2 separate regions of the Homo sapiens genome follow, and region 1 is linked to region 2. The links come from fine-mapping of genetic effects on gene expression. A gene starts in region 2. The other region holds a variant in brackets. All regions are shown on one strand. Distances are between the middles of the regions. Region 1 overlaps PLEKHA7 (pleckstrin homology domain containing A7). Region 2 holds the start of PLEKHA7 (pleckstrin homology domain containing A7).

Region 1 (4,384 bases), 51 kb before region 2:
ACCCTCAAGTTTTAGAAAAATCGGGTCATTCAGCGAAGTTTCCTCAGTGAGGTCCCCAAACCACCCTGTCCCCATCCCCAGTCCCAGCTGGTTTCTCTGCCACTCACTAGGATGACCAAGGCTCCAGAAGAAAGGACAGAATCTTGGCGACTCAGCCAGGCAGGGCTGTGGAAAGGCCGCCCAAGCGCCTTGAGGTGGTCCTAACGCCAGGCTATGCTCAGCTCATCGGAGAGTAAGACTCAAAGATGGGAAAAGTACCTGCTTCTCACACCAGCCCTGGCCTCTCAAAGGCTATGAGCCTTCCTCAGCTTCCAGCCAGGCAGCCAAGAGCTCCAGAGAGTTTACAATTACGGGCTACAGGCAACCGGAGAAGTGGCCCAGAAAAGAGGCCCTCCAACCCTGCACCCACCCCTGGCTGTGCCTGGAGGGTGACATCCTGAGCTGTTATTCTCCCCTGGGCAGCATCATCCCCAGAAGGGGACAGAGTTGTTTCAACCTTGGTCCTCAGACACACCCTGGCATCATCAAAGTGAGAGACAGGATTCTGGCAGGGCCCGGTGTGTGGAAGGTCACAGCAGACCCATGGCATCTTCCAGAGAGGGGGTGAGAAGGCCATGGACTTTTGAGTCAGATGGTCCTGAGATGAAATTCAGGTTATGCCATTAATTCGTGATTTAACTTAGGCAAGTCTTTCACTTCTCCGTGCTTCAGTTTTCTCACCTGTAAATTAGGATCAGTACCACCTGCCTCATTGGCTGCTGTGAGATAACATGAGTAAAACACCTATGGAAGGGTCTGGCACATAGTAAGTGCATGACGAATATGTCCTGTGGGGCCTGACCACAACACACCAGGTATAAAGCAGGAGCCTACGTTGCAAAATCAAGCTGATCCCACTCCCACTTCAGAAGGGAGGAAATGGGGGGAAGCAAGTCAACCTTTAATCGATTCTTTTTCCTAAAACAGTGCCCTGTGCTTCAGATGAGGAGGCAGCCCTGTGGCTTTGGCAGAAATGACTGATGTACATGGTGGCAAAGTGCTAGAGACAGACTGCCTGGATTCCAATCCCATCTTTGCCTCTCGCTGGCTGTGTGGCCATGAGGGGGCTAATTAGCCTATGTTTTCTCACTCTGAATGGGCATTATCACAGTGTCCACCTGATGGGGTGGTTGTGAGATCACTTGTGTAAAAAGACTCTTGGCGACCAGTCAATGAGCAGTAAGTGCCCAATATCTTTCCACCGTGGTTATTATCTCCACTGTGCAACACTCACGACCCAAAACCACCTTAAGTCTTCGCTCCCTGAGAACTCAAGTTCTGCCTGTAGCCACAAGCACCTTATTTTTGGATACAGTCTCATACCATTGCCCAGGCTGGAGTGTAGCAGTATGATCTCAGCTCACTGCAACCTGTATCTCCTGGGTTCAAGCGATTCTCCTGCCTCAGCCTCCTGAGTGGCTGGGACTACAGGTGCATACCACCATGCCCAGCTAATTTTTATATTTTTAGTAGAGATGTGGTTTCACCATGTTGGCCAGGCTGGTCTTGAACTCCTGACCTCAAGTGATCCACCCACCTCAGCCTCTGAAAGTGCTGGGATTACAGGCATGAGCCACTGCACCTGGCCCACAAGCACCTTGATGTGGTCCTTTGGCAGCCTCCCCTGAACTTGTGTTTCTAAGAATGTCTCATGTACCCACATCTCCCAGAAGCAACAACAACAACAACAAAAAGAAAATCACAGTGCTCAAGATATGGGGCCTGGCTACTGGTGCCTTGGGAACTAGATGGCACTGAGTGGAGCTCTGAGTTAAAGATACAAGAGAAGCAAATGCATACTTGTTCCTCCCACTGCAAGACAATCAGAGTGACGAGGAGCAAGGCAGCCACTGCAACCCTCTGGATTCAGCCTCCTTTTCTGTAGATGAGGTGGCCTTCCACTCCTTGACCCAGGATGTATCACGGAAAGACAAGGCCTTGTACACAGTGCAGTCCTCCTAGAGGAGGGCCATGCCACTTCTGTGCAGCTCCAGGACTGGGACAGGGATGGTGACATTAGAAAAGCAGAGAAGCAAGTGCCTGACCTATAACCATATTTGGTATTTTCTAGACTTCAGCATCTTTTATTTTTAGAGGTATGTGTTCCAATTTGGTTGAGGTAGCTGCAGGCTCCTTGTACCTTGCTTAATTTAGGACTTTTTTTTTTCTTTTTTGAGGGTGGAGTAGGAGTTAAATACAGCTTTACTCAGCCACCCCCTGGATTCTAAGCCCTAAATTTAACTCCAAAGAAACTTGTCTTGCCCTACTTCATGATTCCAAACCATAGACAGAAACTATTACCTGTTTCTGCAAATCAGAGAGCCCTGACAATGGAGCACCAGGGAGGTGTGTCATCCATCCTGGGGTGCTGGGCTGCAACACTGGAGCTGTCGTCAGCTGACTGGGGAGAGGGGCAAGAGGGGGAACAAACGGCCCTACTTTGTGGCCTAAATCTTGATGAACATGTCCCCTGGGGAGCCAGGAGAGCTATTTGTACAGCCAGTCAGAATGACCAGGGTGTGGCCACAAGTGTCCCATTCGAGTAGCCCTAATCTGGCAGCAGGTATCCAAAAGGACAGGGACACCCTGGCATCTGATCAGTAGGTGCACTGCATTTGGACAAAAGAATTAACTACC[T/A]GTTTCTCCAACCCTGCCCCCAGCCACCTCTCATTGCTTTTATGTTTAAGGTCTTATTCTTACTTTATTATATTCGCAATGTTGTGCAACCAACGCCACTATGTTCCTAAAACTTTGTTACTACCTCAAACAGAAGCACTCTTAGTTATCAACAACCCCCGATTTCTCCCTTCCCTCAGGCCCTAGAAACCTCTAATCTACTTTCTGTTTCTATGTATTTGGCTATTCTAGGTATCTCATAAAAGTGGAATCATAGAATTTGTCCTTTGGTAATTGGCTTATTTTACTCAGCATGATGTCTTTGAAGTTCCTCTGTGTTGTGGCATGTGTCAAAATTTCCTTCCTCTTCAGGGCTCAGTAATATTCAATTATATGTATATATCACATTTTGTTGATCCATTCATCTGTTGATGGAAACTTGAGTTCTTTTCACCTGTTGGCTACCATGAATAATGCTGCAATGCACCTAAGTGTACAAATATCTGTTTGAGCTCCTGCTTTCAATTCCTTTGGGTATATACCTAGACATGAAATGGCTGGATCACAGGGTAATGCTATTTAGATTTTTGAGGAACCACCAAAGCAGGGCAGCTGCACTATTTTACTTTCCCACCAGCAATGCACAACACACAAGAGTTCCAATTTCTCCACATCCTCACCAATCCTTGAGCTGTACCCAAGCCTAGGAAACAGCCTTTCCCTCATACCCCAGGATGTCTGCACACTCTTGGAACTTCCTGAGGGGCCTTGGGGTAACAGCAAAGGACTGCAACCAGAGAAGCAACTAGGAGTGTTTCACTCTGGGATTCCTTCAGTTTGGTAAAACTCCAGACAAAAAGCATGAGGGCTGGCTGGGCAGGGCCTTTCCTGCTTCTGAAAATCAGAGCACCTGAAATTGGAGGTCCAGCCAGCTGTGCGCTCTCTTACAGGGCACTGCGCTGCAGTAATAGAGCATTCCTTAGATACTGGGGGACACCAGGGGTCTCCAAAGTGCACAGCACTCAATCCTGAGGTGCTCAAGATGACCCACGGAGTTCTAGAAGAAAACAGTAGAACACCTATTCAGGTTTATTTTTATGCCATCCTTTTACAATTGTGTGTGTTTTCATTAGCACAGCAGGTATGTATATAATTTATAAATGAGCATACATGTGTTGGGGCAAATGCTCATTTATTAATGGGATATACATGATTTAAAAAAAAAAAAAAAAGGTTTGGGCCAGATACAGTGGCTCATGCCTGTAATCCCAGCACTTTGGGTGGCCGAGGCAGGCAAATCACTTGAGGTCAGGAGTTTGAGACCAGCCTGGCCAACATGGCGAAACCCCGTCTCTACAAAATATACAAAAAAAAACCCAAAAACATAAGTCAGGTGTGGTAGCGCGTGCCTATAGTCCCAGCTACTTGGGAAGCTGAGACACAAGAATCACTTGAACCTGGGAGGCAGAGGTTACAGTGAGCCAAGATCACACCACTGCGCTCTAGCCTGGATGACAGCACGAGACTGTCTCAAAAAGAAAAAAAAAGGTTTGAAGACCCCTATCTTAGACCAATTCTTCCTTTGTTGTAGTTTTTTCCTCTGAATTTTAATGTATTGTGTCAATGGCAATGAGAAAGATATCTGGGGGAAATAACTCACAAAACCCACCACCCTCATCCCCTTAGTGCCTGACACTTCTCTATTGCCAACTCACCTTTGGGTTCTCCT
Region 2 (4,384 bases):
ACCCCAAACCGGCTCTTCCCATCTCAACGATATGAATGCTATCCACTCAGGTGCCCAAGCCCTGAGGAGTCATCTTTGCCTCTTCTCTTTCTCCCACAGACTATTCAGTCCATCATGAAGGTGTGAAGAGCCTATTTCCTAAACACAGCCTGAATGTGACCACTACTCCCTGTCTACTGTGCTACCACCCTCAGGCAAGCCACTTCTAACTCCTGCCTGGAAGAGGGCAACAGCCTCAGCTGCTCTCCTGCCTCCCCCTGCAGTGGCCACCTACAATCCAATCTCCTCACAGTGATCGTTCTAAAAACACACACCAAATCATGCCATTTCCCTGCTTAAAACCCTCCAATGACGTTTCACTGGGCTTAGAATAAAGTATGAAAATTCCTCACCCCGGCTCACAAAGCTTTGCGGCATTTACCTTTCTCCTACCTGTGACCTCTCCTCATGCCACTTTCTCCCTTGTGCACCACATTCCAGCCTTCCTGCTCCTTAAACTCCAAGCTCTTTTCTGCCTTAAGCCCTTGCCCTGGCTGTTCGCTCTTCCCGAAATGCTTTGCCAACTCATCATCACATGATGTCTCCTTCTTGTCATTCAAATTTTACTTTAAATGTTGCCTATTCAGAAACACCATCCCGATCTCCCAGTACAACCAAGCCACCCAGTCACTCCATGTCACATCACCTTATTTTAACTTTCTGCACAGTAGTAACCACGATCTGATATTATTATTTGTGTTTTTTACTTATTTTCTACTCCCTTCCCTCTCCTATTAGATTGCAAGCTCCATGAGCACCTAGAACTTTTCTGTTTTTTGTTCCCAATGCCTAGAACAACGTGTGAACGTGTGGCACACAGGAAAATTGTAATAACATCAACTGATGCAGTTATGAGCCAGAGAGGCCCACTGACAGCAAGACTCTGATGGCCCCAGCCAACTCCCCAACTTCACATACACACATATGAGGCAGGGCAATAGAACCGCAGCAAGGCCCTAGTCCTTAGGTCTGTAAATCTCACCCATCAGTATTTTCAACTATTATGCAAGAACCCAAACCAGAAAAGGAGGTTCCGGGGTTTTCTTGAAATAGGCTGCTTTATTCCTAACAGTAGTAGTTCTGACTCACAGTCGCCGAGGTACACCCAGTCAGTACTAGTCAGACCACCGTCCAGACCTTTGGCGAGCTGATTCATTCAGTGAACAAACATTTACCGAGTGCCTACTTGCTGTCCGGCACTGGGGCAAGGGGTCAAAGGCAGTGTCTGGCCTCCCGGAGCTCAGCAGGCAGAGGGAAACACGCTGCAACACAGACTCCCGCCGGAGTGGGAAAGCAAAGCCTGTACTGGCATAGGAGCCTGACCCGCGCCTTCACTTACTGCGCCCCAATCTGACATGGACTGATCCTACAGACCCAGGGTAACCTGGCTGGTGCGCCAACACTCCGGGGCTTTTGCGGAAAAGTCGCCCGTGGACTAACGGAAGCACCAGCAATCCCCCGGTTCAGCTCCGGCCGAAGAGACGCGGAGCGCTCGAGGAAAGTCATTGGTTGACCAGTTCCCTTCCCCACCCCCTCCCTCCCCGCAGGCCCGCGCAGTGGATGGAGGCCGGGGGCGAGGTTCCGACTCTCCAAGACCATCCCAGAGCCTGCGGCGGGAGAGGGGGCGTCCTCCTAAGCGAGATTCCCCTAGTCTCTCCCTCTCCCCACTCCAACCCCGCAGGCCCACACCAGGACAGAACTTCTCGTTCTACTCCTCCCACCCGAGCCCATCCAGGTCCCGGCACTCGCCTCTCCCGGCGGGGCGCAGCCCCAGACCCTAGAGGGGAGGCGTGCCCAGCCCGCACACCAGCACCCGAATCCAGCCGGATTGCAAGGTCCAGGGCGCAGAGTCTGCGGCCTCTTCCCCCCCGGCCCAGGTCCCCAGCGTAGGTGCGGCCCCCACCGCCTTCCTCTCGGAGGCCGCCAAACAACTTGGGCACACAAAACGTTGAGTGTGGCCGCGGCGCAGCGCGCGCCAACGAGCCCGGGCCGGCGGGAGCAGAGGAAGGGCGGGGCGCCCGGCGGGAACGGGGAGGGACCCCCCCCCCGCGGCACAGGTGCGAGCGCGGCGGCCCCACTCACTCACTCGATGAAGTAGCTGGCGCCCTCCTCCGTGAAGCCCTCCTCCCAGCCGCGGGGCAGGTCTGCGGAAACGCCAGAAAAGTCGGGTCAAACTTGGGCCGCCGCTGCGCGCGCCCCCCACCCGCCGGCCCGGCGCCCACCTGAGCGGATCATGTGGCCCGAGTTGACGGGCTCCCCGGTGCGCGGATGCAGCCAGGTCGTGCAGCGGAGCTGGTCACTGCGGGCAGAGAGGTGCACCTGTTAGCGCCGCCACAGCCCGCCGGGTGCCCGCCCGGCCCCCGCCCCCGCGCCCCCACCCGCGTCCCCGCGTCCCCGGGTCCTCGCGCCGCACTTGATGAAGAAGACGCGGCCATCCCGGCACACCCCGTAGGACCAATGCTCAGGTAAAGTGTCCCGCCCGACCGTCGCCGCCGCCATGTTCGCCGAGCGCGGAGCCGCCGCGGGGTGGGGGGGAGGGGGCGGGGGCGCGGGCAGGGGCGGAGGCGGGGGCGGTGGCGGGGGCTCGGCCTGCGCGTGGCCCGGCGGCGCCGCGAGGCGCTCCATCCAGGCGCGGGCTCCTGAGGGAGCGACCGCCCGGCCGGGTCCTGGCGCCCGGAGTTCGCAGCCGCTCCGGCCAACCCAGCGCAGTGCCCGCGGCCTTTGTCCCCGAGCCTTCCCCGCCCCCAGCCTGCTGGCACCGGCGCTCCCCTTTGCCCCCGAGGCCGGGAGACCCGGGCGGCGCGGGGGGCCGCTGGCGGGGGCCGCTGGCGGGCGCGCCTGGGCAGCTTCGGGGCGCGCGGTTGGACCCGACCAACTCCGAAAACGGCGAGCGCCCGAACGCTCAGTAAACCCCAGCCGACCCGCACCACAGAACTTCCCGACCCGGGAACTCCGCTTGTGTGTGAACCAAGTTAACACTCAGGTTCCTGCCATATTCCCAGCCTCCTTCTCTTCCCCTGTAAGGTTAATCGAGTCCACACGGGATTGTTGTGTAGATTAAATGAAGTAACAATCGCATAAAGTGCTTAACCGGACCATGGCATGTAGTAGGTGCTCTATCAACGGCAGGCCGAGCGCGATTTCATTTTCCCAAGTTTTCAGCTGGGATGTGAAACAGGAGGGAGCAGGGTTACCGCCACACACCACTGAGGTTGCAGGGATCGCAAGCTCTTGCCTTCAGTTTCTGTCAAGTAACAGAAAAAAGGGGTTTTGAGGGCTCGGCAGCACGTCCATCTCTGGAAGAGCGGTGGCCAGGCGGGGCCTCTAGGGGGCCCTGCAAAGCTCTTTGCAGTGGCGGCACCCTCTCATATTCGGGTCTTTACTCCTATCTTATCTCCTCGGGGAGCCCTCCCTGAGCCCTCTGCAAAGAAAATCCTTCCCCTCCTTCCCTCGCTATTTCATTACTTGTTTACATTTAATTGATATTTGTGTTTGTCTTGTTTGTTGTATATTAGTTCCAACATGTCAGCTGGATGAGAGAAGGGGCTTTGATCTACCTCATACACTGCCTGGTCTCCAATGCCTGGAACAGCACCTGACTCATGTATGCATTACGCATTCAATAACTGTAGGATGGGGTGGGGCACGGTGGCTCAGGCCTGTAATCCCAGCACTCTTGGAGGCCGAGGCGGGTGAATCACTTGAGGTCAGGAGTTCTATTCCAGCCTGGCCAACATGGTGAAACCCCGTCTCTACCAAAAAAATACAAAAGCTAGCCGGGCGTGGTGGCGGGCGCCTGTAATCCCAGCTACTCAGGAGGCTGAGGCGGGAAAATCGCTTGAACCAGGGAGGCAGAGGTTGCAGTGAGCCGAGATCGCGCCGCTGCCCTGCAACCTGTGCAACAGCGAGACTCAGTCTAAAAAAAAAAACTGCAGGATGAGTGAATGAAACATACTCCACACTCAGACTCCCGGCCACACACACACACACACACACACACACACACTGAGCAAAGACAGAGCAGCAGCTGGGCTCCAGCTGTTGTCAGGCCCAGCCTTCTCGGGACATAGGCTCTGATTGATGGGAGGAGGCGCGCCTGAAAGTGAGACTGTATGCAATGTGAGCACTAGTTATTCAGAAAGGTGCCCAAACAGGTGGAATTAGGCTGGACCCTGAAGGACTGGTTAGGTTTGACTGGGAAAAGAGCACTCCAGAGGGGAGGGATGGGAGAGCATGCACATAATTTTGGGAGGGCTGTGAGATGTTGATGAGACCATAAAGGGGCCCTTCCTTGGGAACAGACAGTGGTGTTGGGGAAGGAGGCATTTATGAGTTAGAAGAGGTA

The links. PIP is the estimated chance that this variant, and not a neighbour inherited with it, causes the effect.
Region 1: its variant is the best candidate, but not a certain one, in a credible set for the expression of PLEKHA7 in blood mononuclear cells (TOPMed, PIP 0.54).

What each region holds. Positions count from the first base shown.
Region 1 is chr11:16,961,134-16,965,517 of GRCh38, forward strand. The region is part of intron 3 of PLEKHA7 (pleckstrin homology domain containing A7); the gene reads right to left. Among named protein-coding and RNA genes, the nearest start is that of SNORD147, 37 kb to the left of the region's middle. The variant T/A (reference allele first, on the strand shown) is at 2,677.
Region 2 is chr11:17,011,864-17,016,247 of GRCh38, forward strand. PLEKHA7 (pleckstrin homology domain containing A7) reads right to left here and starts at 2,551. Exons shown (of 27, transcript NM_001329630.2): 1 at 2,453-2,551; 2 at 2,262-2,338; 3 at 2,126-2,183. The coding sequence starts at 2,538. RefSeq lists an enhancer at 313-1,074 and a silencer at 959-1,253.